3 separate regions of the Homo sapiens genome follow, and all the other regions are linked to region 3. Evidence: fine-mapped expression QTL. A gene starts in region 3. Each other region holds a variant in brackets. All regions are shown on one strand. Distances are from middle to middle.

Region 1 (10,080 bases), 52 kb before region 3:
GGGCAGGGCAGCTTCCAGCAACTCTTGCAGACATTTTGGAGGCCAAGGCCGCTAGCGCCCCAGCAGCCATTCCGAGCCGACTGGCCTGGGGCCCAAATGAAGCCAGCCAGCCCTGGGCACTCCCGGGCCCTGCCAGCCTTGGGGTCCTCATCTGAGAAGGGCGGGTCCTGCAGGCCAAGCCACTGGGGTGACAGCCAGTCATCCAGCATCCCCATGGGAAAACCCCTTCAAATCCACCCAGGAGCTCAAGGGCTGAGTTGAACTCTGAGTTTCCAAATCAGGGCCCCTCCCTGGCTCTGCCCACGCTGGTGACCAGAGCATCTAGGACAAGCCGGCAGCAAGTGACCCCATCCCACCGAAATAAGCCTGGCTTTGGTCATCTCGCCCCCTGCTGTGTCCCACTGTCACCCATTCCTCAGGTGGTGGGGGAGGCGCAGAGGAACCAGGCAGCTAAGGAGGCAATGGCGGGCGGGGCAGACAGCAGGCTGGAGGGGTAGAGATCAAGGAATGCTTCTCAGAGGAGGCAGCTCTGAGCTCCGCAGCACAAATTTATTAAGTGAAGATGTAGGGAGAAGCACATCAGGCTGAGGGAACCGCAGTACAGCAGCCCAGAGCGGAGAAAGGACCGGACCTGGAAAACCAGGAGGAGATCATGCTGGGGTGTGGGGAATGTGGTGGGGGTGAGGTCACGGAGGGAGGCATGAGCCAGCCCAGGCAGCACCTTGAAGTGTTCTGAGAGCTTCCAGAGCATTCTTTTTTTTTTTTGCCCCTGCTCCCTCACCCAGCCTGGAGTGCAGTGGCGCGATCTTGGCTCACTGAAACCTCCGCCTCCCAGGGTCAAGGGATTCTTTTGCCTCAGCCTCTTAAGTAGATGGGATTACAGGCGTGTGTCACCACGTCTAGCTAATTTTCGCATTTTTAGTAGAGATGGTGTTTCACCATGTTGGCCAGGCTGGTCTCGAACTCCTGACCTCAAGTGATCCACCCACCTCGGCCTCCCAAAGTGCTGGGGTTACAGGCGTGAGCACCTGAGCCTGGCCAGTTTCCAGAGGATTCTTATCGGACCAGAGACACAATCTGATTTAATGTTTAATGACTCTCCAGTCATGTATCTGATAGTTCAGTGTTTAATTACCAGAGAAAAGACTGGTTGCTGGCAAGGATGGCAAAGGGTGAGTGTGAGGAGTTAGACGTCAATCGGGTGAGCAGTTGTCCAGGCAAGAGCAGGAGGTTCCAGCCAGGGTGTAAAAGAGACCAGAGATTGTTAAGAGATGTTACACGTTAAGTTGTGTCCTCTAAAATTTACATGTTGAGGCCAGGTGCAGTGGCTCACGCCTGTAATGCCAGCACTTTGGGAGGCCAAGGCAAGTGGATGACTTGAGGTTGGGAGTTCGAGACCAGCCTGGCCAACATGGCGAAACCCCGTCTCTACTAAAAATACAAAAACTAGCCGGATGTGGTGGCGGGTACCTGTGATCCCACCTTCTCGGGAGGCTGAGGCAGGAGAATCACTTGAACCCAGGAGGCGGAGGTTGTAGTGAGCCCAGATGGCACCATTGCCCTTCAGCCCGGGTGACAGAGCGAGAATCTGTCTCAAAAATATATATATACGTAAAAATAAATAAATAAAATTCACATGTGGAGGCCAGGCGTGGTGGCTCACGCCTGTAATCCCAGCACTTTGGGAGGCTGAGGCAGGCGGATCGCTTGAGCCCAGCAGTTCAAGACCAGCCTGGGCAACATAGCGAAACCCCATTTAAAATAAAAAAATAGGGGCCGGGCACAGTGGCTCAAGCCTGTAATCCCAGCACTTTGGGAGGACGAGGTGGGTGGATCACAAGGTCAGGAGTTTGAGACCAGCCTGCCCAACATAGTGAAACACCATCTCTACTAAAACTACAAAAAATTAGCTGGGCGTGGTGGTAGATGCCTGTGATCCCAGAAACTTTGGAGGCTGAGGCACGATAACCGCTTGAACCCGGGAGGCGGAGGTTGCAGTGAGCCCAGATCACACCACTGCGCTCCAGCCTGGGCCATAGTGCAAGACTCCGTCTCAAAAATAAATTAATTAATTGAATAAAATAAAAAAATAAGGCCAGGCGTGGTGGCTCATGCCTGTAATCCCAGAACTCTGGGAGGCTGAGGTGGGTGGATCACCTGAGGTCAGGAGTTCGAGACCGGCCTGGCCAATATGGTAAAACCCTATCTCTACTAAAAATACAGAAAAGTAGCCGGGCGTGGTGGTAGACGCCTGTAATTCCAGCTACTCAGGAGACTGAGGCAGGAGAATCTCTTGAACCCAAGAGGTAGAGGTTGCAGTGAGCGAAGATCACGCCATTGCACTCCAGACTGGCCAACAAGAGCGAAATTCCGTCTCAAAAATAAATAAATAAGCTGGCCGGGCGCGGTGGCTCACACCTGTAATCCCAGCACTTTGGGAGGCCGAGGCAGGTGGATCACAAGGTCAGGAGTTCAAGACCAGCCTGGCCAAGATGGTGAAACCCTGTCCCTACTAAATATACAAAAATTAGCCGGGTGTGGTGGCACATGTCTGTAATCCCAGCTACTCGGGAGGCTGAGGCTGAGGCAGAGAAGTGTTTGAACCTGGGAGGCGGAGGTCGCAGTGAGCCGAGATCATGCCACTGCATTCCAGCCTGGGCGACAGAGCGATTCTACATCTCAAAAAAAAAAAAAAAAAAAATTAGCTGAATGTGGCAGCACGCCCCTGTGGTCCTGGCTACTTGGAAGGCTGAGGTGAGAGAATTGCTTGAGGCCAGGAGACTGAGGCTGCAGTGAGCCATGATCACACCACTGCATTCCAGCCTGGGCGACAGAGCAAGACCCTATCTCAAAATAAAAAAAAAAGAAAAGAAATAAAAGGTGACAGGGCAGGGGTGGAATTTGGACACAGAGCTGCACACATGAAGAACACCGTGTGAAGATGAAGGCAGTGAGAGTGAGGCTTCCACAACCAAGGAAGGCAACACAGAAGAAAAGAGTGGGATGGGCAAGGGAGGAGGGACTGGGCCAGGTGCCGTACCCGGCAAGCCCGCGGTCTTGGTGACTTAACCCACAGATGTTTGTTTTTCAGTCATTCAGAGATTTGTGCCGAGACTTCCGGTTGGCAGGCACCTTCCACCAGGTCACTCGGGGATCCAGCTCCCTCCACCCTCCCCAAGGTATCCCCTCCGCTCAGTTGGTGAATGGAGAAGAGAGAAGCTGAGGCTGTGGCAGGCCAGACCTGGCAGGGACTTTCCAGGGATCCTGTGAAAGTGTTCTAGCCCGATATGGTGTGGCTCACACCTGTCATCCTAGCACTTTGGGAGGCCAAGGTGGTGGATCACTCGAGCTCAGGAGTTCCAGACCATCCTGGGCAACATCGGTAGACTCTGTCTCTATTTATTTGTTTGTTTATTTTTATTTTTGTTTTTTTGACATGGAGTTTCAGTCGTCACCCAGGGTAGAATGCAATGGTGCCATCTCGGCTCACTGCAACCTCTGCCTGCCGGGTTCAAAAGATTCTCCTGCCTCAGCCTCCCGAGTAGCTGGGATTACAGGCATGCACCACCATACCCAGCTGTTTGTATTTTTAGTAGAGACGGGGTTTCACCATGTTGGCCAGGCTGGTCTCAAACTCCTGACCTCATGATCTGCCCACCTCGGCCTCCCAAAGTGCTGGGATTACAGGTGTGAGCCACTGCACCCAACCAAGAATGAACCAACCAACCAACCTACCTACCTACCTACCTACCTTCCTTCCTTCCTTCCTTCCTTCCTTCCTTCCTTCCATCTTTGAGACGGAGTTTCGCTCTTGTTGCCCAGGCTGGAGTGCAGTGGCACGATCTCGGCTCACCGCAACCTCTGCCTCCTGGGTTCAAGCGATTCTCATGCCTCAGCCTCTTAAGTAGCTGGGATTACAGGCATGAGCCCCCACGTCCGGCTAATTTTGTATTTTCAGTAGAGATGCGGTTTCTCCATGTTGGTCAGGCTGGTCTTGAACTCCCAACCTTAGGTGATCCGCCTGCCTCAGCCTCCCAAAGTGCTGGGATTACGGGCGTGAGCCGCCGTGCCCGGCCCAAGAGCCACATTTCTAACAAGCTCCCCGGTAATAATGGCGCTGGTCCAGGCTCCGAACTTTGAGTACTGAGAGATGCCACTCCTGCTATTCCCCCGCTAGCCACACCTCATGTAGGGGAAGTGGGGAAATGAGTCTAGTGTTTGTGCAGGAGCTGGAGGAACTGGGATCAGTAAACACAGGTAGGGAGTGCAGCTAGGAAGCAGGCAGGAGGAACACAGCTGTCCCAGGAAGGGGGACAGGACAAAGTATCATTGCTGCTGAGGATGGGTGAGGTCACAACTGGGACTTGCAGCCCCTCAGCAGGGGCCTCTTTCTGAACCCCTGGGAAGGCCCCGAAAGATCCCCCAGGGCTGCTCTCAGGGTCTCAGAGGGGCCCACGAACCCCTACCCCACCCATTCCTCATCCAGCTGTCACCCAGGAGAGGTGGTCCACTGACCCACCGCCCTCCTGAAGACAGAGTGTGGAGGTGAGGCCTGGCCTGGTTCATCTCTCCCAGGGCCTCCCCAGCGGCCTCCAGGGGGACCCCCTGCCCACAGATTTCTGGGGCTTCCTTTTGCCTTGGTGGCCCTGATGTGCCTCTGCCATGAGGAGTGGGCCCCAGGTGGAACACTGTCACCACCAGAGAGATGAGAAAAAGGAAGGAAGGGCCGGGCAAGGTGGCTCACGCTTGTAATCCCAGCACTATGGGAGTCCGAGGGAGGCAGATCACCTGAGGTCAGGAGTTCCAGAACAACCTGGCCAACATGGCAAAACCCCATCTCAAGATTGCAGTGAGCCGAGATGGCGCCAATGCACGCCAGCCGGGGCGACAAGACAGCGACTCTGTCTAAAAAAAGAAAAAAAAAAAAG[T/C]CTCTACTAAAAATTCAAAAATTAGCCAGGCGTGGCGGCGCCCACCTGTAATCCTAGCACTTTCGTAGGCCGAGTGGGGGGGCAGATCACCTGAGGTCATGAGTTCGAGACCAGCCTGGCCAACATGGCAAAACCCCGTCTCTACTAAAAATACCAAAATTAACCAGGTGTGGTGGCACCCACCTGCAATCCCAGCTATTCGGGAGGCTAAGGCAGGAGAATCGCTTGAACCCAGGAAGCAGAGGTTGCAGTGAGCCAAGATCGCGCCACTGCGTTCCAGCCTGGGTGACAGAGCAAGACTCCGTCTCAAAAAAAAAAAAAAAAAAAGCAAGAAGACCAAGGGCAGCTGAGCAGCCCCAGGTGGAACCCAGGCGTCCTGACTGCACCGGGTCTGGCCCTGACCCAGAGCTCCCGGCAGGAAAGGGCTGGGCTCAAACACGGCCACCCTGCACCGCCTTAAGAAGGGCAGGGCTGAGCCTGCTCCTCCCCTTCCTGGGGGGCTGACTGGGGCAAAGTGGCCTGGTCCCTCCTCTTGCCCAGGTCCCCCAACTTCTCACCTTCTCCCTACTTGGGCAGGGCAAATCCTGTGTTCCATGTCCCATAGGAGAGAAATGCCAGGCTGGCCCCTGGGTTGCTTCTGCACCTACCTCTTTGGCTCCTTTCTCTCTGCCGCCCCCATGTGGCCAATCTGCACCTGTGCATCTGCTTCCCTCAGAGATGACATGCCAAGCCTGTCAGGCCCTAGGGACCCCAGGCCGACCCCTGCCCCAGTCTGGCCTCAGTCTCCCTGTCTGTGAAATGGGCTGCTGGAGATCCTGCTTCCAAAGTGTCAGCTGGCGGCAACGACATTCGAGGGGTGAGGAGCCCCTCAGAGCATGTGAGAGAGTATCTCTGTGTGCCCAGAGGTCCCTGAAGAATCAGAGACCCTGGAAGCGACATGGAGGCATGAATCAGCGCCCAGCCCCTGGATCAGACCAGGCGGAGCTTGAAGCCCAGTTCCAACGCTTAATAGCTGGTGACGCCCACGAGTCACCCAGTTACCACCTCTGCGCCCCATCTGCAGAATGGGGAGATGAGCCTGTCCCCTCTCGCAGGGCGTCAGGAGGGCAGACATGCCGCTGCTTGCAGAGCCCTGAGTGCCAAATGCTGGGGAAGTGGTGGGGGGTGGGCTTCTTAGTTCTGGAAGTTTCCGTGAGTGACCTGAGACTGAAGTTTGCCGCAGGGATACTCCACCCCACTCCATCTCAGTGCCCCAGCCTCAGCACTGAGCACCCACTTCCTCTCACCCCCTGCCCCCTCTGGAGGAGACAGGCCTGGGCCAACCGAACCGGGTGTCACAGTGCCAGGGACAGAGGGACGGTTCTTTCAGACCCTACTCTCTCAAGGGAAGGGGCTGATTCCTCCACCAGCGTCCCAAGCCGGCCCCCTTTCCGCACAGAGTCCTTAATTGTCCCTGTCGCCACCTTGCCCCATCCTCAGATGGCTGTGGCTGTGGGGGTGAAGCTCCCCACGCACCGCCATTGTGCAGGCCTGCCCCTAGGACATCCTCTGTGGACTGGAGCCCGGGAGGACTTCACTGAGCCCCCGCCAAGAGAAACCGGGCAGACAGGTGGTCCCGGATGCTCCCTCGTCGGGAAGCGCAGTTGGGTTCCAGGGAGCCCGTGGGTGCTGGAGGCCCCAGCTCAGGGCTCAGTGAGCCGGGCCAGCCTGGCCTCTGAGAGGGCTCCCGGAGGAGGCGACCAGGACCCTGGCCTAGAGTCTCAGCAAGTCCATCTCCTTCAAATGCCCCCACCTCGGCTCCACGCCCCTCCTCCAGAGCACACTCGCGTGAGGCGCCAGCTGGAAGATCCTCGCGGGTCCCAGCACCGCAGTGGGTGCCTGGGCCTGACAGAACCTCCCTGAACCCCATCTTTCTTCTCCATCGACACCGGGGCAGAGACGGTGTGGGGGCTGCAGGGCGGGGACTGGTCGGCCTGGGCTCGACAGCTTGGCGAGGGCCTGGTGCGGGCTGGGCAGGCTGGACTGAGGGGCAAAGAGGTCTGGGCGGGGCGGGGCCGCTCTGGGCGCCCGGCCCCCACCAGTTCCTTCCCCCGGCCCCCGCCTCCGCCCTCCCACGCACCTGCGCTGGCCTCCCCCCAAGCCCTGGGGGCAGCGGGCGGGTGGCGCTGGGAGATCAGAGGACTCGGAGGAGTCGGGCCCAGGGGGAGGGGGCGGGGAATTTCCCCCCACGCCTGCCTGGGCCTGCTCCCCTCCCCCTCCCCCGCCAGGTGGGGGGCACGGCTGGGGGAATTCCACTGCAGTGTGAAGGCTCGGGAGAGTCTGGGCTGGGGGTCCCAGGGAAGGGCGGGGCAGGGGGAGGAGGAGGGGACAGACTGGGACCTGGGGCGCAGCTGCCTTTCTCCCCAGACACCAGCTGCCCCTGCCTGTCCCGGACTGAGCGTCCACGACTCCCGCCTGTCTCGTGGGCGCGGGGGCAGGGAGTGGAGCTTCCTCCGTCAGGCCAGCGGCATCTGGACCAGGGGCGGGAGGGGCGTGCGGATCCGAAGAAAGTGTGCGCGTGAGCGCCTGGCAATGAATGGGAGAGAGTGCGAGCGCGTGCGTGCACTGGGAGGAGGGCGCTTGTAACTCGGACATTCCGGGTGTCCTGGGGCGCGTGCGACCACGTGAGGGGGTTCTGTATCTCCCATTTTAAGGGCCTTCCGTCCGCTTGCCCCGCCTGTCCCCCTCCACACCTTCCCACTTGAACCGGCACCGACCTGAGGGAGAGGGGGCCGGGAAGCGCTGGACGCCCGGGGTCGGGGGAACGGGCGTGGGAGGCGTCTGGACCTGCTGCCTCCGCTCCAGTGCTGGGCGGGGCTTCCCGGCCTCCCATGGGGGGAGGGAGAGACCCAGGGGGAGGGACCCACGGAGGGATGCGAGGCGGGCAGGAGTCAGCCCGTTGGAGACCTGGGCGAGGGAGACGCCGAGAGCTAGGCTCAGTGGGAGGGGGCGGGCGTAGAGGCTGAGGCACCGCCCAGAGCTCGCTGAGACAGAGACTGAGAACGCCCCCGGCCAGATTCCCCCCGGAGAGACCCGGGTAGGGACAGGGACAGAGAGACGCCTCTAGGGGCAGAGGCCCTGGGAGGCAAAGACCCCCAGGAGAGATTTACCCACCCCAGACGGAAAGCGCGGCTCAGAGTCGGACGAGGGGAGACTGTCAGAGGACAACGCCCCCTAGGTCTCCTGGGAGACCCCGAAGCGACCCCGGGGGCAGCCCGGGCCGTGTCCGGGCGAGGGTGACCTATCCTTGGTTGAGAGCGATGGGGACACAAGCCCTGCAGGGCTTCCTCTTTCTCCTCTTCCTCCCGCTGCTGCAGCCGCGTGGGGCCTCGGCTGGGAGCCTGCACAGTCCAGGTAAGTCCCCGCACGGCTGTCGGGCCGTGTTCACCACCCCTTCCTCGGCCTCCGCCCCCAGGGCCAGGCCCCCAAGGCTAGGGAGGGGGACAGAGCAGGTGGCCGGAGCAGCTGAGCAGCCCGAGGGCTCCTGCAGGGGCGGGTGCGGGGTCGCTGGCTGGGGACCCAGGCGGGAGGTGGCGTAGGGGCGCGAGGATGCCCGGCGTGGGTCCGGACCTCCCCAGGCCCTGCCTTTGCCGTGCAGGCCTGTCCGAATGCTTCCAGGTGAATGGGGCTGACTACCGCGGCCACCAGAACCGCACTGGCCCGCGCGGGGCGGGCCGCCCGTGCCTCTTCTGGGACCAGACGCAGCAACACAGCTACAGCAGCGCCAGCGACCCCCACGGCCGCTGGGGGCTGGGCGCGCACAACTTCTGCCGGTGAGGGGCGGGGCCTGCGCTGGGGGCGAGGCTGGGCTCACCATTGCAGGGATGGCCCGAAGCGGGGCCTCCGTGCGGGCGGGGTGGAGGTCTGCCGTGGACTGGCAGCCCAGCCTCCTGGAGAACCTGGGGGCGGGGCCAGAATGAGGGGCGGGGCGGGGCGGGGCGGGGCGCGCGGAACCCTGGCGCAAAAGGGATCCTCCTCAGGTGAACAATTTCTGCAGAGCTCCAGTTCAGGGCCAGGAGAGAAACGGACCTGGGCACTCAAAGGACCCGTATGGGCGGGGCCTGGTCAGAGCGGGGGCCGAATGGGCGGGGCCTTGTCAGAGTGGGGCTCTTGTCATACAACTTATTTTGGGGTTCAGAGCCACAGCTACGGTCTGAGGCAGGATGGACCCAGCGGGAGGAGAGCCGCAAAGCTCAGGAGCTCACTTCTGCTTTTAAGTGGGGTTGGAGGCCAGGCGCGGTGGCTCAGCCTGTAATCCCAGCACTTTGGGAGGCCAAGGCAGGCGGATCATCTGAGGTCAGGAGTTCGAGACCAGCCTGGCTACCATGGTGAAACCCCATTTCTACTAAAAATACAAAAAATTAGCGGGGCATGGTGGCGGGCGCCTGTAATCCCAGCTACTCAGGAGGCTGAGGCAGGAGAATCGCTTGAACCCGGGAGGCGGAGCTTGCAGTGAGCAGAGATCGCGCCAATGCACTCTAGCCTGGGTGACAGAGCGAGACTCGTCTCAAAAAAAAAAAAAAAAAGTGGGGTTTGAGGGACGGAAGTGGCTGAGGCCCATGCCGGGTGGGGGTGAAGAATACAGATGGCCTCAAAGTCCTCATATATGGAGTCAAGTCTAGCAACAGCTGAAGCCTAAAAACAGCTCTCAAGTCCCCTTTAATGACTTCCCGCTGTCCACTCGGAAGTCGACGTCCAGTTCCTTCATCAGGCAGAGTTCTGCGTAGACAAAACTGGAATTTGTGGGTGTACAGCAGGCAGCACAGCCGCTCACAGGCACAGAGCCTTGAAGGCCACTTTGAGCATAGGCTGCGGGGCCGGGCCTGGGTTTGCTATTCTTGGGGTGGTGGGAGCCCCACCACCTCCCTCCCACCCGCAGTAACCCAGACGGTGACGTGCAGCCGTGGTGCTACGTGGCTGAGACAGAGGAGGGCATCTACTGGCGCTACTGCGACATCCCCTCCTGTCACAGTGAGTAGCGCGGCTGGACAGAGGTGGGAACGCTGCTGCATCTGGGAGGAGGGTTGTTTTCGGAGTCACGGAAGTCTGACTCTGCCCCCTCAGTGCCAGGCTACCTGGGATGCTTTGTGGACTCAGGGGCACCCCCAGCCCT
Region 2 (10,080 bases), 410 kb before region 3:
TAATTTATCTGACCATTTCCCTACTGTAAAATACTTAAGACGGTTTCTGATTTTTCCACTATTTAAATAATGCTGTGATGAATATCTTTAAAATCTTCTGATTTCTTACTTTTTTCCCCCTTAGATGCCTGGAAGTGGTATTTTGAGGTGAAAGAGTTTGTTCATTTTGAAGATATTTCTGTCTCTCTCTCGACCTGATGTGTAGACGCTCACTTCCAGTAGCAGAACCACCTTAGTTGTGTCTTACAGATTCTGAACAAATCGGTTTCTGATAAGCCATGTGTTCCAAAGAATGTCTGAATAAGACCGCTCTTTATTTAAATGCTAAGAGGATGTCACTACTGCAATCCATCTGTGGCCGATTTTTTCCAAGAGCCAATTTCCTTGTTTTGGTTGCAAGAACCTGGCTCTGCCTGCATGTCAGCTCTCTGCCCTCCCTGCTGCCGTGGCTTTCAAGCGCTTGGCAGAATCTTGTACTTCGTGTCCACAATGGTACTGAATTTGCATCTGCACAGTCAGCAGAGATAACAAGTGTTGAACTGACCTTGCCACATGCTTAGTGAGTGATTTGTAATTAAGTTTATAGACTCAGAAGGTATATTAGGACATTTGGAATCAGTAGCAGAGCAAAGCCTCTTTGAAAAAAACCACGTAGCTGATTGGGTTTTACAAGAGTGCATTTGTCTCCCCCTTCCACCCGTGGGGCCCCACCTTCAGGTCTTAGTGGTTCACAAGAGCCCAGCAGCCAGGCTGGCTTTTTCATTGTAGGGCGTGGTTGTCCCAGCTGGTGTAGATTTCAGGCCGCCCCCCCCAACTCCCTGCCCACAGTGTTGCAGATTGCCTGGCTGGCAGCAAGTCCAGACCACCCAAATTTGGTTGGATTCTTCATTTCTCCACTGTAGTTGGGGTCCATTGATTGTGCAGGGGAACGTGCAGGAGGTTTTTCTAGGCACCGTGTTCAGTGCTGCTTCACTCTACCAGAGATTATGGCCAAATTGCACGGAATTTGGTTTCTTGCCCTCTGAAGCCTGAGGGCCCCCCCTTGCCTGGCTGGTTGACAGACCCGGGGTGGTCACTGCTGAGACTTCAGAGATCGCAGCTGCTGTGAGAATACGGTGAAGGTACTTTGTTCTGGAAGATGTTGTCATACACTTTTCCCCAGTTATTTTCAAACTTGACATGAGCCTATGTTGACTCACTGGGTGGGGGTCCCTTCTTACGCAGCACACGTGGCAAGTGCCTGAATCGGGGCTGGAGGCACTTCAGAGCCTCTGAGGGGCCACCACTTCTGGCCCAAAATTGCAGGGTTGTAGATGAGGCTGCCTGTGGAGAACTGGTGTGAGGAGGAAGCTGTTTCCAACAAAGAGCACTTTCATCTGTTGAGATGGCTGTGGTGAGCAACTGAACGAGCCTACGTGTGTACCTGAATTTTCCCCGTAACTCATTTCTTCCATATGAAGAAACACCAAACTATGTACAGAGAACTTTTTACAAAAGGCAGACCTTTTTTAAGCTGTGTAACCCACATAGCCTAACCACCTGGCAGAATGACTACGAATAGGGGTCATTGTGCTGGTAAAAGCCTCTATTACGACTGTAAGTAAGTTGGATGTTGGCAAAATTAAATTGTTACAGTATTTAGAGCTGCTGTAGCTGTTCCTTCACAACATAAAATAGGATAAATGACTAGTACGTCTTTCAGGTGGGTGGCAAGCAGAACATGCGTAATATTCTCTACCTGGTCTGTAGCTGTAACTGTGATGTACAGACAAAGCAAAAATTAAAAGAACTTATGAAAACAAATGCAATGATACTAGGATATACACTTTTGTATTTTTATTCTTATATAAGGTTATTTGCTGGCTATTGTTGGCCTCTAGTTCAGTCTGTGTTATTTAAATTCTAATATATGAATTATTTGAATTGAATTCATGTTCGGGGCCACGTTGTTGTATGTATTGATGTACAGCCTTGAATGTGAATAATTATTGTAAACTATATTTTACAACTTTTTTTCTGGCTTTATTATATAAATTTTCTATTGGGTCAGTGATTTAATCATATAATTTAATGAATCTGTTTATCCTTTTTTTTTTTCCAAATACTTGTGCTTTAGGTGTAGTTACCAGATGATGAATTTTCCTCGTATGGTCAGTAGTCTTGTAATAAAAAGCATGTAGAGTGTAGAGGTTTGCTGGCGTGGCTCTTCCTTTGACCCCGCCACGGAGTGGGGGCGCGGTTGGGGGCGGGTGTCTGCCATTGCCCGCTAGCGTTGGCGCCCCAAGCTCGGTTTCACTCCCTCCGGAAGTGGGACCAGCCGGCTGCTTTTCCCGGATGGAACTTCCGCCTGCCATGTGACCGGCGGGTGTTCTACAAGGGCTGACCAGTGGGCGGGACAGAACGCAAAGGGCGATATTAAAAGCCGGACTCTTCCGGTGAAGCGGAGGTGTGGTGGGGCTTGCTGGGATCATGGCGGGGAATCACTGCGAGCTCCTGCCGCTGGCCCGTGGCAGGCTCGGGGCGGGGTTGGGGTGGCTTCTTGTGCCTCCCTTAAAGCGCGGGGCTCAGCGTCCTGGCCCAGCGCCCCAGCAGCAGGTCCAAGTGGGTCCGGCTCTACAGCGGCGGCACCTACTTCCTCACCACTGGGCAGACGCCGCTGTGTCAGGACCCGAAATCCTTCCTGTACCTCTTGAGCCAGGCCGACCCCGACCCGGACTCGGACAAGGTGAGGACCACGTGGGCCAGTCGAAAGGGCCTGGGCCATTTCGGCCTGTGGCCGCCGCACACGCCCTGCTCCACGCCGAGGAGAGCTCAGCAGGAGAGGGCGACTCTCCTCGGGCTTCGAGCCCAACACTCCCTTGTCGCCAGCTCATCCCCAGCTTGCCCCGATCCCCTATCCTGGGAGGGGAGGGCAAGGATGGCGCCCTGGTGTCCACTGCCTTTGAGAATCCTGAGTCGCTTCACCTTGGGGGTGTCTCTTCCTCGCCCTCTTTGCTCTTTGGTGGAGGAGGCTTCCGAGACCCCGGACTTTGCTGTGATTCTACTTTCTTTTTCTCACTAGGTTCTTTTGCCCAGGGTGTGTGAACGCCTTCTCTTCTCTGTCCCAGGGTACTTGCTGGCTCTGGAGACAGAACCCTTGGCGTTTCACATTCTGGACGTTTGAATTAACGCTGACGTGGGGGTTGATATGGGCGGCCCTTTTTTTCCCTGGTGACTTGTATTTAGAGAGTTGGCGCTCCATCCTTTCCATCCACAGCACGCAGCACCCACTCAGCACCTCTTAGAAGATGCGTCCATAGTATATACTGTGATTTTTCGAAGGGGATTTTGCTCATATTAAGGGTTGCTTTAGGGATGTCCAGGAAGGGCCAGGTAAGGAATCTTTCAATCTGCTTTCTAATTGGCTTAGTTTTCCCACTGTCTTCGCAAAAGGACAGGAATTTCCAGGTTAGTTTGCAGCTTGTCTTTCATCAAGCGAAATGCTCATGCTGTTGGGTAGATGGTAATAGAAACCTTTTGCTACCTTTATTTATCAAGAGTTGTGGAGCCGAGGAACCGTGTCTTGGGAGTTGTGCAGGATTGAAACTCACAAAAAAGCCTGTTTGAAGAAGTTGTTACCTATATTTATTCAAGGCAGTTCACAAGCCTTATACTAACTTTGCGGGGTCTTTCAGTTGAGCTTACATGACTGCGCTTGGCTTTGTGCCTTGGCAGCCAACATTTGCCATGCAGGAGGCTTCCCAGAAAGGTTCGGATCCCTCTTCAAGTTTGAGAAGCCTGACTGAGACCATTCTCAGCATGGCATGACCGTGATCAGGAAATGAGAATCTGGAGTTACTGCTAAGGCAGCCTTGTGGGTGGAAATGAGGGTTTGAGATGCCAACCCTCCTGTGCCTCCCCACAACTTCCAACTGTTTCCATTGCTCATTTGACCAAGCCCTCTACTCAGAGAATTGACCTCCCAGGAAATGACAGTCATCCCCAGGATAGAAATAGGCGTTTGTTAGCTGTGATTTTCCTTTTATAAGTGTGGGTGTGTGTTTTACTGTTTGGTTTTTCTTTTTAAATAACAGGGCTTAGTGGTCACTCCCTTGCCTTTCTACTCAAGCATTCCTGTTTTGTATATGAAATTAGAGTTTAAATTGCTCTTGTCCATTGGGTTCTTTGAGGCAATGGTTGTCTATTCAGCACTGGAGCACTTGATTCCCAGTTGATGAACTATAGCACAGTTAAGGTGGTTGATCCCTTTGCTTTACTGTTCCTTAAGACTTTGTTAAAAATTATGGGCCGGGCGCGGTGGCTCATGCCTGTAATCCCAACACTTTGGGAGGCCCAGGCAGGTGGATCTCGTTCAAAACCAACCGGGCCAATATGGTGATGCCCGGTCTCTACTAAAAATACAAAAAGGTGGGCGCGGTGGCTCACGTGTGTAATCCCAGCACTTTGGGAGGCTGAGGCAGGCGGATCACGAGGTCAGGAGATCGAGACCATCCTGGCTAACACGATGAAACCCTGTCTCTACTAAAAATACAAAAAATGAGCCGCGCGCGGTGGCGGGCGCCTGTAGTCCCAGCTGCTCTGGAGGCTGAGGCAGAAGAATCGCTAGAACCCGGGAGGCGGAGCTTGCAGTGAGTCAAGATCACACCACTGCACTCTAGCTTGGATGACAGAGCAAGACTCTGTCTCAAACAAACAAAAAAATGCTTTACGGTAGGAATCAATTCTTTGGGCGAGGGGTAATTAATCTTTCTGAATATATCTGTGTTATACTTGCTCTTTTCATTATCATCCATTTAACCAGGTTTGATTTCCAAATGGTAAAACTCAAATTCAGAACATGAAGGTAAAGTAGCAGATACAGTCGTCTCTGTCTCATACAATAATTGGAGTAGGGGCCGGGCAAGGTGGCTCACGCCTGTAATCCCAGCACTTTGGGAGGCCGAGGCGCGTGAATCACCTGAGGTCAGGAGTTTGAGAGCAGCCTGGCCAGCATGGCAAAACCCCGTCTCTACTAAAAATACAAAAAAATTAGCTGGGCATGGTGGCGCGTGCCTGTACTCCCAGCTACTCGGGAGGCTGAGGCAGGAGAACCACTTGAACCGGGAGGCAGAGGTTACAGTGGGCTGAGGTTGCGCCACTGCACTCCAGCATGGGCGACAGATCGAGACTCTGTCTCAAAAAAAAAGAAAAAAGAAAAGGAGAAAACAATAATTGGAGTAAATAAGGTTAGTTTTAGTGACAGATAATTTGCCAAAAGTGTAGTGCTAATTCATATTAGTCACGTTACTAAAGTGTTTTCCGGTGTTTTTCATCAAATGAGGAAATGTGTAAAATGCTTCATCTTAGTTTTGTCTCCAGTGGCTCTGATGAAAGAATGTCCCAGGAGATTCCTCCTAATTAAATGCTGACTGAGGAATCTGAGGAGGGGGGGAAGGGGTGTCAGGAGTGGGAGGCCATTAATGACACGTTGGAAGACAAACAGGATGTTGATTCACCTGTAAAGATCTCCAAGGCCTGACCTCAGAGTTGAGATTAAGGAAAGAATATTCCTCGAGTTGGACTTAAGCATGGATCTGGTGGAAGAGTCCCTGCCTGGATTATTAGACTTGTGTGGAGTGAGCACCTGGGCTTGCAGAGTGTGGGGGTCTGGAGAGGGGTTGGGTGGGGAGATTTAAGGGGGAGGAGTTCCCAAGAAACCATAGAAGCTTTGGGTGCCTGAGAGGTTGGGAGAGCACCCTGCTAAAGCATCCTATCTGGTAGGGAGGGGAGCTCT[TGACA/T]GACGGGTTGTTAGGGAGGGTGGTGAAAGCCACGCACATCAAGGGGCTGGCTTGATTGCCCTCTGGCCCCACATCTAAGCTTCTGGGCTGTGACTGCCCCCAACCAAGTCCTCAGAGCCCAGCTTGGGACCCACCACCCGCCATACTCCACGCTCCCAAGCCCTTACTCTGCTGTTCCAAGGGCCGACCTGCTGCCACAAAGTTCTCTTTCTAGACAGCCCGGTGTGAATTCTCACTTCCTCCTGGGACTTCCTCCAGCAGGACTGTGGCTGTGGTGAGCATTTCAGCATCTGCTCATCTGCTGTTCTGTCATCTTTCTCTTCCTTGGTGTCTTCGAGGGCAGGCCAGGTGGAATACGGCTTCCCAAAGACTCGATTCATTTTGGTTAGGTCTCTTGTATTGCATGGTCCCCGGCCCATAGGCATTGTTGAAAACAAAGTCGAGTTTGTTGTTTCCAGCTAAAGCAGCCCCTGCTTTAGTGTGGAGATACTTGAGGAGTTAAAAGGAAACAGGAAATACTACTGCTTTATGGTTGGAAACCACTCAGATGGAGGAGAATTTGGGGAGGCTTCGGTTCCTGCAGCTGAGGCAGCCTTGGAGAAAACTGCACGTGAACTTTTGCCCTTTGAACAGGGCCGTTGTCCCGGCTTGAGGGTTCCAGATGTGGTGGCATCAGATGGGTCTTTGAGGGGTGGGGCAGTCAGGGTGCCTCTAACAGTGTACTGGGTGTTGGCAAGACCTCGGGGGTGGAAAGTTATGGAAGGAATTGTTCAGACAGGGCCCAGTGATGGGGTGTGGGCTAGAGTACCGTCTTTGAAGCCGCTTGGCAAGAGAAGTGGGGATCACGTCTAGTGGAGATGGCAGATGATGTACTGTGTAGCCAGCACTGGTGAGAGACTGTGCCCATCCCGGGCCTGCCTTGTGACTTCGGGTGATTTCCCGTCCCCTGTGAGCTGTAGTTTCTTCCTCTGTAAGGTAAGGGTGACGTCCTCCCCTGAAGATGACAAATGTGGTGCCCCTGCCCCATGCCTGGCACCAGGTCAGTGCAGTCAGGAGAGGCTGTGCCTGGAGGTCTTCGTGTTTGTACTTGTTTTTTTTTTGAGACGGCGTCTCACTCTGTTGCCCAGGCTGGAGTGCAGTGGCGCGATCTTAGCTCACTGCAAGCTCCACCTCCCGGGTTGACATCATTCTCCTGCCTCAGCCTCCTGAGTAGCTGGGACTACAGGCACCCGCTACCACGCCCGGCTAATCTTTGTGTATTTTTAGTAGAGACGGGGTTTCACCGTGTTAACCAGGATGGTCTCGATCTCCTGACCTCCTGATCCACCTGTCTTGGCCTCCCAAAGTGCTGGGATTACAGGCATGAGCCACTGCACCCGGCCTGTACTTGGTTTTTGTTTTTAAATATTTGAGACAGAGTCTCACTCTATCCCGCCTCTATCTGGGCTCACTGCAACCTCTGCCACCTGGGTTCAAGAGATTCTCTTGCCTCAGCCTCCCAAGTAACTGGGATTACAGGCACAAGCCATCATGTCTGGCTGATTTTTATATATTCTGTAGAGATGGGGTTTCTCCATGTTGGCCAGGCTGGTCTCGAACTCCTGACCTCCGGTGATCTGCCCACCTCGGCCTCCCAAAGTGCTGGGATTACAGGTGTGAGTGTACTTTACTTTTAGGAAGGATATGCTAAGAACGCTTTTCCCCTCCCGCAGCCACACTTAATTTCTGTTAATGTCGACCTCTGGCCACACTCAGCCCTGTCAGCCTCGGGTGATGCACCGGAGGTCCCTGAAGGCAGCATGTATGGCCAGGAGTGGCTCGCCCTGCCAGTCCCCCTGCTGCCACCCAGAGCTCTGGCTGACCCTAGCAGCACAGGCCCCCGCTGAGTGGGTCTCCACCTCTGGGGACTGGACCCTGCACTGTGGGGAGGGCAGGGCTTCCTGGGCAGCCCCCGAGTTTTCTTGCAAGAAACCTGACACCCCTGCTCCTGAGAGGGCTCCAGTTCCTGCCGAGCAGAGCAGGACTCTCTGCAGCGACCTCGGCTTGGCAAGACCCCCCGTGGTTCACCTGAAGCATGTTTCTTCCCCGAGAAGCCGCAGGACCTCTTGTGAGGGGCCAGGTCGTGAGTCCACACACGTCTGCTTCTCACTAAGCTTTGAGTCATGTGTGGGGCAGGGACCTCCCAAATTCCAGTTTCTATGCTGGGTGAGGCCGAGAAGCAATGGAAGGGAAGGGTGGTGGGGAGGCAGCAGGCCTGGCGACCAGGGCACAGGGGCCCCACCCTGCTCTCCGAATCTGGCTGCCTTGGACAAGCCTCCTTGGTCTCTGGCCTCAGTTTCCCCATTAGTAATTGGTGACATCAAAGTCCTCTTGTGGGCCAAAGATATGCCACAGCTGCATAAAACAAAACAGAAGAGAGAGTAGAGGTGAAGGTTTTGTGTGCGAAATTGAAACAGAGTCACTTGAAATGGATAATTTCAGAGTAAAAACTAAGTATTTCTAATTAGGTTGATTGCAGATGTTGGTGCACAGGAAATTCTATGCCTTCGCGTCTAGATTTCTGTGGGGCAATTTGACAGAGTTTATCTCCTGGATTGGCTCAGGGCACTGCACCCTCTTGATTTCGTTCCCCTCTGGTGGCACGTGTCTCCGAGCACCGGGAATGACTGAGAGCCGCAGGGCCGACCCTCTTTGCAGAGCTCTGGGAGCTGCGGGAGGGTTGGGCAGCAGCAGGGTTATGTTGGGTTCAGAATCTGGCGTGAGAGCCTGGCAGTCTCCACCCTCATTCCTCACTGCCGTTTTTTTTTTTTTTGAGACAGAGGCTCACTGGATCGCCCAGGCTGGAGTGTAATGCACAATTTTGGCTCACTGCAACGGGGCTGTCAGGTTCAAGTGATTGTCCTGCCTCAGCCTCCCTAGTAGCTGGGATTAGAGGCACCCTCCACCAAGCCTGGCTAATTTGTGTATTTTTAGTAGAGACAGGGTTTCACCATGTTGGTCAGGCTGGTCTTCAACTCCTGACCTCAGATAATCCGCCCGCCTCGGCCTCCCAAAGTGCTGAGATTACAGGCGTGAGCCACCAAGCCCAGCCCTTCACTGCCATTTTCAAGGCTGGTGGTTGCATTAGGGACCTGTTCCTCAGGGGCTGGGGTGCCCCCATGTTGTCTCTGGTGCTTTGCTTGCTGGGTGACAGCATGGAGGGTTGAGGGCTGCAGCCGGAGTCTGGTGACATGAGCAGAGTGGGCAGGCTTCTCACCAGCCTTCTCTGAGTGCTGCTCTCCTAAACAGACTTCCCTCTGTGTTTGTCCTGTGGACTTGGGGAGGGGGCAGCCAGCTCTGTCTGTGGGATCTTCTTCTACCTCCTGAGACTGTGTGTGCCCTGGCTTGGCGCTGCCTCCCGTGCGCTCCTCTCCAGGAGACAACCTTGGCTCCTGCTCTTGGTGTGGCCAGGATCCCTCTTCTCCTCTATGGTTTGGAAACCGGCCTGCCTGGCCTGCGGTGGGTGGCTCCGGCTGAAGGCTGTGACCCCTGGAGATGGGTGGGTCAACCCAGCCTGCTGGGCCCACCCAATACCAGCTTGGGCCCGGCCCCAAGTAGGTCAGATGCCGGTTCAGCAAGGTGCGGGGAAGATGAGGGAGATGACTTGCTAAGAAAAGTCTTAATTATGGCTTTTTTTTTTCAGACGGAGTTTTGTTCTTGTTGCCCAAGCTGGAGTACAATGGCACAATCTTGGCTCACCACAACCTCTGCCACCTGGGTTCAAGCGAGTCTCCTCCTTCAGTCTCCTGAGTAGCTGGGATTACAGGCATGCACCACCACACACAGCTAAGTTTTATATTTTTAGTAGAGATGGTTTCACCATGTTGGCCAGGCCAGTCTCAAACTCCTGACCTCGTGATCCGCCCACCTTGGCCTCCCAAAGTGCTGGGATTACAGGTGTGAGCCACCACACCCAGCCAATTAGGGCTGTCTTACAAAAAAAAAAACCACCACGAACCTTTGCGAGAATCGAGCGCAGCCTGTGCTGGTTGTGTAAGCCGTGGGACACACGGGAAAGCCAGGAAGAAGAGGAAGAGCACCCCCACACCCCACCCGCGTGAAGAAGAGCAACCCCACTCCCCGCCCGTGGGAAGAAGAGCACCCTCACGCCGGGCCCGCAGGAAGAAGAGCACCCCCACGCCCGGCCCGCAGCATCCCGCTGGCTTCCTGGCCACCTCTCCTCACCCATCTTAGAGGCATGGCCGGGCTGGGGCATCTTTCCCTCCTTGGGCAGGTACCGCTGATGGCCTTGTGGGCAGCACAG
Region 3 (10,080 bases):
TGGGTGACTCTGCCCTTGGGGTTCTTAGTGTGCTGCCCCCACACCCACCCCCGCACTGTTCCTGGCGCATGGTAGCTCCTGGTAACTTCCTTCCTTTCCTTTGTGGTCAGGCCACACTTCCCCCTCTAAGAGGCGCGGGTTAACCCACTTCGACCCTATCTAAGCTGATCTCTGGTTTCTTCTGCCCACCTGAGCCTCCCTGCCCCTCTTTCCTCCTAGACGGAACAAAAACGAGGTCCATTTTGTCGCTCCAGGAAGGGACTGGTGGAGAGCCGGCTTCCTTTCCTCCCAGGGTAGTACAGTGGGGAAGGTTCCCCTCCCCCACCTCTTTTCCCAGACGTGGTGGATGGGGGAGGGGACTTCGCTGGAGGTGTTAAAGTGCCATTGAGATGGTAACCACACCAAGGGGCCCCCACTTTTCCATATCAATGGCATTCCAGTCCCTGATTAGGCCCCAACCTTAACCCTTCCTTTCCCAAGATCCAACTGAATCCAGGTGCACGGGGGCCTAGGAGAGGGTCTAGGACCTCCCAACCTAGGTCTAGTGAGGGCTGAGGACAACAGGCTAATTGCTACCCATGTGTCCTGGGAATCCTCCCACCATGGGCAGCTCCCCAACCACCCTCTTCCAGCCTCTCCTAGGCTCCAAGATGTTTCTCCACTTTTACTCTCCCCAAGGGGCTTGGGGAGATACTGTGTTTTATCTTAGAGACTTGGGGTGGGAGGAGCCTGAAGCCGCACAGGGCCACTGTGAAGGCAAGTCCAGTGGGTTGGTCACTGAGGTGGGGGTGTGCGCATTTGCTGAGCAGCCTCCACCCACTCTGCTGGCTAGTCCCTGGAGTGTGGGCTTGCTTTCCTTCTTGCTCCGGTGTGGAGATGTTGGGCCAAAGAGGAATTGGGGTCTTAAAAACCTGGGGTCGGCTGGATGCGGTGGCTCACACCTCTAATCCTAGCAGTTTGGGAGGCCGAGGCAGGCAGATCACGAGATCAGGAGTTCGAGACCAGCCTGGCCAATATGGTGAAACCCCGTCTCTAATAAAAATACAAAAATTAGCCGGGTGTGTTGGCACATGTCTGTAGTTCCAGCTACTCGGGAGGCTGAGGCAGGAGAATCGCTTGAATCCAGCGGGCAGAGGTCGCAGTGAGCCGAGATCACATCACTGCACTCCAGCCTGGGCAACAGAGCGAGATTCCGTCTCAAAAAAACAAAACAAAACAAAACAAAACACAAACCTGGGGTCCCCGAGCAAGTGCGGTGGCGCTTGCCTGTAATCCCAGCACTTTGGAAGGCTGAGGCAGGCGGATCACCTGAGATCAGGAGTTCGCAGACCAGCCAGACCAACATGGTGAAACCCCGTCTCTGCTAAATACAAAAAAAGAAAAAAAATAGCCGGGTGTGGTGGCGCATGCCTGTAATCTCAGCTACTTGAGAGGCTGAGGCAGGAGAACAGCTTGAACCCAGGAGGCAGAGGTTGCAGTAAGCCGAGATTGTGCCATTGCACTCCAGCCTGGGCAACAAGCGCAAAACTCCGTCTCAAAACACAAACAAAAAAACCCCTGGGGTCCTCTTATGCCCTTTCCGGGCACAGCGCTCACTGGATGTGTGCAGCCCGCCACTGGGCTACAACGTAGGGGTTTAGAGCTGAATGTGGAACCGGTGAGTCACCGAGGCAGGGCCCGACAGCAAGTGGACCAGCCGTCCCGGTTTCCCTGGAGGACCCAATATTCAAGCTGGGAATGTCCCTCAAAAAAGTGGGATGAGCCGATCACCTTAGGCCCTAGGACAAGGAGGACTTGTTCCGGCCCAGGGAAGAGAATAGCCCCTGGGTTGGGGCTGCTGGGTGGGGGGACTTCCAGGGAGGCAGGCTTGCTGCTGCCTCCTGACAGCTGCCCAAACCTGTGTGGCTGGATTCCTGGAGGCCCCTGGAAGGCTGCGAGGGAGCCCGCTGACCGGCTTGCCTCCGTCTGCAATCTCTGCTCTCCCCACCCCAACCCTGTGAAATCTGAGCCCCAGGGGCTGGGTGAGCTGGACAAACCTGCCACAAGATTCCCTGAGTCCACTGATGGCCATTTTCCAGCCTCTGTATCACCCCCCCATCTTCCAGACTCTGTGGGGCCACCAGGTCAGCCCCCCTCGTACCGGAGGAGCCCCCCTCAGTGGAGAGGCCCAGGGGGTGGTGAAGAGGAGGCCAGGCTTCTGTTTACCTTACAGACCAGCTGATTGGCGCTGGCCTGTCTCTGTGTTTGCAGGGGAGGATCTTAAGCTGTTTTGGGTCAAGGCCCCTTTGCAAATCTGAAGGAAAGTATAAATCTCTCTTCCAAAAGTATCATTTTTTTTAAGAGACAGGGTCTCACCTAGGATGGAGTGCGGTGGCATAATCATAGCTCACTGCAGACTCTAACTCCTAGGCTCAAGAGATCCTCCTACCTCAGCCTCCCGAGTAGCTGGGACTACAGACAGGAACCACCTAACTCAGCTAATTTTTGTGTATATATATATATATATATTTTTTTTTTATTTTAGAAATGGGGTCTCACTGTGTTGCCCAGGTGGGTCTCAAGCTCCTGGCCTTAAGCAATCCTCCCACCTTGGCCTCTTAAGCGCTGGGATTACAGGCGTGAGCCTCAGTGCCCGGACCCAAAAGATGCTAAAACCCTTTCGCAGAAGCGATGCTCATACCCCTAGGTTTGAACCCTGACCGCTCCTTGAGGTTAGAGCCCTTTATACACAATGTCCCACCCACTAGGTGAGGGGCACTGAGCAGGGGTGTGCCTGGCCACTGGCTCCCCGAAGGCAATGCCGTGAAGTGGTGCAGCCACCAGATGTGTGTGGTGGGCACCTCCAGCCCTGCCCGCACTGGCCAGTGGGCTCCAGCACACCCCAGCCCTCCCAGCACCAGGCAGGTGAGAGGCAGTCCCAGGTGAGGGCCCACTCTGAGGATCCTCTGTACCTCCCTGGAAAGTGTATGAATGGAGACAATGTTCCTCACATCCCTTTTCCTTTTTTTTTTTTTTTTTTTTTGAGACAGAGTCTCCCACTGTCACCCAGGCTGGAATGCAGTGGTGCGATCTCGGCTCACTGCAACCTCTGCCTCCGGTTCAAGCGATTCTTCTGCCTCAGCCTCCCAAGTAGCTGGGATTACAGGCACCCGCCACCACGCCCAGCTAATTTTTTTTTTTTTTTTTTTTGAGGAGTCTCTCTCTGTCGCCAGGCTGGAGTGGAGTGGAGTGGTACGATCTTGGCTCACTGCAACCTCTACCTCCCGGTTTCAAGTGATTCTCTTGCCTCAGCCTCCAGAGTGGCGAGTGGCTGGGACTAGAGGCTTGTGCCACCACGCCCAGCTAATTTTTGTATTTTTAGTAGAGACGGGGTTTCACCATGTTGGCCAGGATGGTCTCGATCTCTTAACCTTCCGATTTACCTGCTTCGGCCTCCCAAAGTGCTGGGATATCTAATTTTTTGTATTTTTAGTAGAGACGGGGTTTCACCATGTTGGCCAGGCTGGTCTCGAACTCCTGACCTCGTGAATCGCCCACCTTGGCCTCCCAAAGTGTTGGGATTACAGGCGTGAGCCACCGCACCTGGCCGTCACACCCCTTTTTCAGACAACAATCCTCAGAGGTTCTTAGCACCCAGGCAGGGGCTTGAAGGAGTTCATGAACCCTCCCCCACAAATGAGGGGCACATGTTTGTGGGTGCATGTTCTGTGAGTCCCACGGGGTTTCTCAAGTGGGTCTTTGACCAAAGGAGGTTAAGGACCTCGACCTTCCATGACCTGTCCCAGGTAGGGGTCAGGATTTGAGCTTTGGTCAGTGGGACTCCCAGGCTGTCCCCATGAGTGGAATCACAGGCTCTGAGGGGGTTTTTCCGGAGGTAAGGCTTTCCTGCAAACTGGAAGGCAGGTCTTGGGGACACTTGAGTCCCTGGACTTAACCCCCGTGCCCACCTCTGGGGTGTTTTGGCCCGGGAGGCCTGACTGGCCACTCACTCACCCACCCATGGAACATAACCGGGTCCTGGGCTGTGCCCCACCCTGGGTTCCAGCCCCAGCCCGTCCCGCCTCCATCCCCCTTCCTGAGTGCCCCCCAACCTCCACAACAGGCCCCTCATCCTCTGGCCTCTGGAGATCTTAGGCAGCTCAGCTCAGCCTCGGTTTCAGCAGCAGGGGTGGCAAGAGCGCACCTGAGCTGAGGTTGAAGTGGGGGGTAGTTTTCTAGGCCGTTGCCAGGGCGATGCCACCTGAGCTGGGCGCCAGGCACCTGTCGTCTGGGGAACAGTGCAGGCGGGGACCTTCCCCCGGGAGCTAGCGGGGCCACTGGGCTGAGACGGGGGATGGATCAGATTCCAGAGAGTCCCAGGCGGGCGGGAGTGTGCGATACTCGGGGAGCTGGGGCATGTTTGCATCACGAAACTCGGCTGGGGGAGAGCAGAGGCAGCTGGGGAGGGGCTGCGGAAGGAGGAGGCTCAGGAAGGCAAGCCGACGCCCCCTGTGTGTGTTTCTGTCCTGAGCCTGTTACTTTTTTGACCCCCGATCCGTCTCTTCTTCCTCAGCTTGTCCTCCATCTTCCCCTCCTTTACCCTTGGTTCCCACATGCACAGATGCTACGGACGCTTTTCCTCCCCTGTCCCCACTCAGCCGCAGCATCCCCCGCTGGCCCCCAGGCCCCTCATCCATCCGCTGCCCACGAACCCCCAGCCCCGCACCCTCCCCGTGGCTCAGGTCTCCCCTATCCCGGCCTCCCTGCACTTCACTCTGCTCCTCCCCTGCCTGGGCCTTAAAACCCCGCCTGCAGCCGAGAGCCCGCAGAGTCCCCAGGTGGCACTGTCAGAGTCGCTCAGTGGGAACCTGCGCCAGCCGGCAGGAGACGTGGCTGTCCTCAGCCTGGCAGTGCGTCTGGAGGGCCTGTGCGAGCTCAGCCCAGGTGTGACAGCGGGGTGGTAAGAGCAGCAGCACCCTCAGGGCATCCGATGGGCGGAGGCCCCTCGAGGTGACACCCACCACTCAGCCGAGCGGGACTACGAGTCTGCTTTGTGCTCCGCGAGGACCAGAAACACCTGCAAGAGGCACGGAGAGGAGGCGCCTTTCAAGAGGCGCCTTTCATGGAACTGAGGACTGGCCTGGCTTGGGGACACCAACAAGCCTTCCCCCTCCTGCTGGACACAGAGACACCCACCCAGCACACCAGACACACCCTCTGAGTCACCTAGGCCGCCTGGGGCTGAGAAGACCTAACCGAGGGGCCAGATGGCTTCGACCGGCTTAGAACTGCTGGGCATGACCCTGGCTGTGCTGGGCTGGCTGGGGACCCTGGTGTCCTGCGCCCTGCCCCTGTGGAAGGTGACCGCCTTCATCGGCAACAGCATCGTGGTGGCCCAGGTGGTGTGGGAGGGCCTGTGGATGTCCTGCGTGGTGCAGAGCACGGGCCAGATGCAGTGCAAGGTGTACGACTCACTGCTGGCTCTGCCGCAGGACCTGCAGGCCGCACGTGCCCTCTGTGTCATTGCCCTCCTGCTGGCCCTGCTTGGCCTCCTGGTGGCCATCACAGGTGCCCAGTGTACCACGTGTGTGGAGGACGAAGGTGCCAAGGCCCGTATCGTGCTCACCGCGGGGGTCATCCTCCTCCTCGCCGGCATCCTGGTGCTCATCCCTGTGTGCTGGACGGCGCACGCCATCATCCAGGACTTCTACAACCCCCTGGTGGCTGAGGCCCTCAAGCGGGAGCTGGGGGCCTCCCTCTACCTGGGCTGGGCGGCGGCTGCACTGCTTATGCTGGGCGGGGGGCTCCTCTGCTGCACGTGCCCCCCGCCCCAGGTCGAGCGGCCCCGCGGACCTCGGCTGGGCTACTCCATCCCCTCCCGCTCGGGTGCATCTGGACTGGACAAGAGGGACTACGTGTGAGGCGGAGGTTTCCCCTGGGAGCCCACTGCTCCCCACTGCCCCGCCCTTTCGACCTTGGCCTGATGACCAGATGCCCTGCTCCATCACAACCTCCTTCCCCAGGAAAACCCACTTTCCAAAAGCCCAAGCTACACCTGGCTGCAGGGCTGGGTCAGCTGGCCTGGCTGAGCTCTTCTCAGTGGGGTCCCCTTTGATGTTCTCCCCCAAGTTGGGCAGCCTAGAGGTGTTGGGAACCCTGGCCTGCCCCCACCTCCCCAGTAATTGTTTCCTTCCGTTGCCCAGGACACTGGCTGGCCTTCCTTCTCTTCTGAGCCCTCCCCTGCCCCAGGAACCCTGGCCTCACCAAAACAGCAGCAGCTCGTTGGCTCCAAAACCAGGGAGCAGACCATGCCCTCCCAACCCTGGAGTTGTCAGGGAGGGCCTGCCCATCACCTCCCTCTCCCCAACATCCCCACCCTCGAGTTGGAAATAAAGAGCATTTGTAACTGGGCTCCCTCTAATCTGTGCGCCGCCGCTGGGGCTGGGCAGGCACAGCCAGGTGGCCTCCCTTGGTGGCTGTCAGGCCAAGGTCTGGCTCTAGGTTCTGCCTGGTGGGTATGCTCACTCAAGCCACGGGGAGAGGGGATCGTGACTCACTTATGCCCATCTCTTCCCCTAGCCAGGGTGGGCACTCAGTAACCCGCTGCAACACCAAATGCACTAACAAAACATGCTTTATTTGATAAAAATGTGAGTGTAAAGGGGGTGAGACGAGGGGGGCAGGGCAGAAGGGTGCAGTGTTGGAGGTGGGGGCGGGGGTCTACATAGCTGGGACCTGGCCCTGGGGGGTGGACGTCTTATCAGGACGGAGGAAACAGAGGTCAGAAGTTCCGGAGGTGGGCAGTCCTTTGTTAACAGATCATTTGTTTTTCCAGGGGTGAAGAGAGGAGCTCCAGAGACCTGAGTAGGATGGGGGGCAGCTGTCCAGTGACATCTAGGGAAGCCCAGCCCCCAGCAGCAGCAGGAACTCTTGGGGACAGTCTGTCTTGTTGCAAAGCCAGCACAGCAAGCAGCCTCCGCATTAGTTCCATAGCTTGACTGGCTTCTAAGATGGGCATGTCAAGATCCAGAATCTCAAAGCATCCCCTCTTTGGCTCCATCATCCAAGGGTGAGAAACAGCAGAGCCTAAGTGAGAGTCTGAGTCAACACCTTGGCTCAGTTTTCAAATGAATTTTAAATATCCTCAGTCAAAAGAAAAATAGCAGGAGGCAGAAACAAAAGGTACGAACCCATCCCAAAGCTGTTGGGCACTGCCACTTCTGGATGGCTCTAGCGCCAGCGGAGCCCCCATTCCCCTCCACGTCAGACGTAATTCTTGGTAGGGTACTCAGAGGGCCCCCGAGAGATGGCAGGGGCAGATGTTGAGTAGCGGGCCATGTAATGGCTGGGGCCCTGGGACCCCCCCGAGGGGCAAGTGCAGCACAGCAACCCCCCACCCAGCAACAAAAGGCCTGAGGCCGCCCAGCCCAAGTAGAGGGAGGCCCCCAGCTCCCGCTTTTGGGCCTCAGCCACCAGGGGGTTATAGAAGTCCCGGATGATGGCATGCGCCGTCCAGCACACGGGGATTAGCGTCAGGACCCCTGAGATGACAAAGACAATCCCAGAGGTGAGCACCAGGCGGGCCTTGGAATCCTTCTCCTCCACACAGGTGGTACACTTGGCCCCAGCAAGGTAGACCAGCAAGCCGAACAGGGCCACAAGGAGGGCGATGACACAGAGGGCACGTGCAGCCTGCAGGTCCTGTGGCAGCGCCAGCAGTGAGTCGTACACCTTGCACTGCATCTGGCCGGTGCTCTGCACCACGCAGGACATCCACAGGCCCTCCCACACCACCTGGGCCACCACGATGCTGTTGCCGATGAAAGCGGTCACCTTCCACATGGGCAGGGCACAGGAGACCAGGCCATTCACCCAGCCCAGCAGTGTCAGGACGACTCCCAGGATCTGCATTCCGGCAGAGGCCATGGCGAGGTTGAAGGAGCTGCACTGTGTTTGGGACAGAAGCACAACAAGGTGAGGCCTGGCAGGCCCAGACCTCAGGCCACATGTGGACAGGACTCTAGGGGCATGCACCCTGGAAAGTGGTCATCACATCCTGGAACTCAGTCAAGACATGCTCCCTGAGCCTCACTTCTCGTGGGCAAAATGGACACTTAATGCTTTAGCATTTATTATTCTTTCTAGTTATGTGACAGGCACTGGCTGATGACAGTGACTGTGCAAGCAGCCCTGCCCTGGCTATCCTGAATGCAAATGAAAGATAACAGGATGAAACCTATACAATGACAGTCCAAGGCCAGAGCCAGTGATCAGGCTGCAAGGCGGCAAAAAGCAGGATGACAGGACGGTGCGATTTCCAAGCAGTTTCCGTGTAGAATGGTTCAATTCTAGCCCTGAGTTTAAGGCTCAAAACTTGTCCATTTGTTTTGTTTGTTTGTTTGAGACGAGGAGTCTCGCTCTGTGGCCCAGGCTAGAGTGCAGTGGTGCCATCTCCACTCACTGCAACCTCTGCCTCCCAGGTTCAAGCGATTCTCCTGCCTCAGCCTCCCAAGTAGCTGGGATTACAGGTGCACACCACCACGCCCGGCTAATTTTTTTTTTTTTTTTTTAAGACGGAGTCTCGCTCTGTCGCCCAGCCTGGAGTGCAGTGGCGGGATCTCGGCTCACTGCAAGTTCTGCCTCCCCGGTTCACGCCATTCTCCTGCCTCAGCCTCCCGAGTAGCTGGGACTACAGGCGCTCACCACCACGCCCGGCTAATTTTTTTGTATTTTTAGTAGAGACGGGGTTTCACTGTGTTAGCCAGGATGGTCTCGATCTCCTGACTTCGTGATCCTCCCGCCTCAGCCTCCCAGAGTGCTGGGATTACAGGCATGAGCCACCACACCTGGTCTTAATTTTTGTATTTTTAGTAGAAACAGGGTTTCATCAAGTTGGCCAGGCGGGTCTCGAACTCCTGACCTCAGGTGATCTGCCCGCCTCAAGCCTCCCAAAGTGCTGGGATTACAGGTGTGAGCCACCGTGCCCAACCAAAACTTGTTAATTTCAACACTAAGATTGGAGATCCTAAGCTTCCTCCCACCACCCAATGTCCCTCACAACTTGGTTCCACACCCCAGGCTGGCAGACACCAGGACCAGGAGAGATGAAGAAAAGCATCATTAATCCCCCATCTAAAAGCAGTTCCTCCCCCAAAGCCAGTGGATAACTCCCTGGCCCCACCCTTCTGACCTGCCCTAGGCGCCGGAGAGCATAGCCTCAAGGCTGAGGGCCTTTTCCTATGAATTCTAGACGAAAATGCCGTGCTAGACTCCCCTCAACACCAGTTCTCCCACCGCCACCTGGCCTGCACCTGTGTCCCCTCAGTGTTGGAGGTCGTGGAGGGAATCACTTCTGACTAGGGCCGGGCTGTGGCCTCCCACTGCCCAGAGTACTTTCATTGTACGGCTTGGACCTAAACTTTTCCCGGCCGGCAGCGGTCGGAGGGCAGGCTCTACTCATTAGCCGGGGGCCCCAGGCCTGGGCGGAGCAGACCACCTTGGGGAGACTGGCTGGGGCACGGTGCCCCAGCGCTCAGGTCCGGCCCTTAGGCCTCTGGCCGAGTTAGGGTCGGGGCCGCGCTGGTATAGGCGCCCAGGCCTCTCCCCTCTGAGTGTGCCCCTGCCCCTTTCTTTTTCATGCACTGCATGAAAAAGACTCTGTCCGAGGGCGCCCCGGCCCACCCGACCACCCCAGCCTGGGAGCCGCGCGCCCTGGAGGGGTTCTATAGCTGCAGTGGCCGCAAGGTCCGCTCCCCCAGGTGAGGGGGAGGGGGGAGGGGCGCCCCGCCCCGAGAGGCAAGGCAGGTGGGGGAGGGGCGCCAGGGGTTTCGGAGTCTTTGTCCCTGGGGAGGGGGGAGGGGCGTTTAACCCTTGGGAGCCCCGAAGGACCCTATCACCTCGGAGGCTTGGGCGCGGACCGGCCGACCCCCTCAGGGACTCGCCCATCCAGGTGGCCGCAGCCCGAGTTCGCACGCACCCCTACCCACGCCGCCACCACCCTGCACCCGGCCCCAAGAGGCGTCTCTCCAACACGCACACTAGCCCCGGACTCACCTGCGAAGGAGATAAGGGAAATTCCTAGGCCGAGTGTCGGGACAGGGG

What was found. PIP is the estimated chance that this variant, and not a neighbour inherited with it, causes the effect.
Region 1: its variant is fine-mapped to the expression of CLDN9 in whole blood (TOPMed, PIP above 0.99).
Region 2: its variant is fine-mapped to the expression of CLDN9 in whole blood (GTEx, PIP 0.97).

The regions. Positions count from the first base shown.
Region 1 is chr16:2,956,294-2,966,373 of GRCh38, forward strand. It overlaps KREMEN2 (kringle containing transmembrane protein 2), which reads left to right and starts at 7,982. Exons shown (of 9, transcript NM_172229.3): 1 at 7,982-8,321; 2 at 8,566-8,740; 3 at 9,847-9,938; 4 at 10,032-10,080. The coding sequence starts at 8,228. RefSeq lists enhancers at 2,941-3,030, 5,219-6,216, 6,217-7,214, 6,701-6,830, 8,799-9,758 and 2 more and silencers at 6,911-6,990, 7,021-7,150, 7,701-7,780, 8,311-8,560, 8,631-9,000. The variant T/C (reference allele first, on the strand shown) is at 4,929.
Region 2 is chr16:2,601,003-2,611,082 of GRCh38, forward strand. PDPK1 (3-phosphoinositide dependent protein kinase 1) reads left to right here. Exons shown (of 14, transcript NM_002613.5): 14 at 1-2,186. It also overlaps the pseudogene LOC652276. Among named protein-coding and RNA genes, the nearest start is that of FLJ42627, 33 kb to the right of the region's middle. RefSeq lists an enhancer at 2,570-2,909. The variant TGACA/T (reference allele first, on the strand shown) is at 5,774.
Region 3 is chr16:3,008,117-3,018,196 of GRCh38, forward strand. CLDN9 (claudin 9) reads left to right here and starts at 4,807. Exons shown (of 1, transcript NM_020982.4): 1 at 4,807-6,389. The coding sequence starts at 5,247. The coding sequence ends at 5,900. It overlaps CLDN6 (claudin 6), which reads right to left and starts at 10,067. Exons shown (of 2, transcript NM_021195.5): 1 at 10,033-10,067; 2 at 6,596-7,926. The coding sequence starts at 7,905. The coding sequence ends at 7,243. RefSeq lists enhancers at 1-441, 442-1,399, 3,666-4,491, 7,091-7,655, 8,875-9,471 and 1 more and a silencer at 6,067-6,234.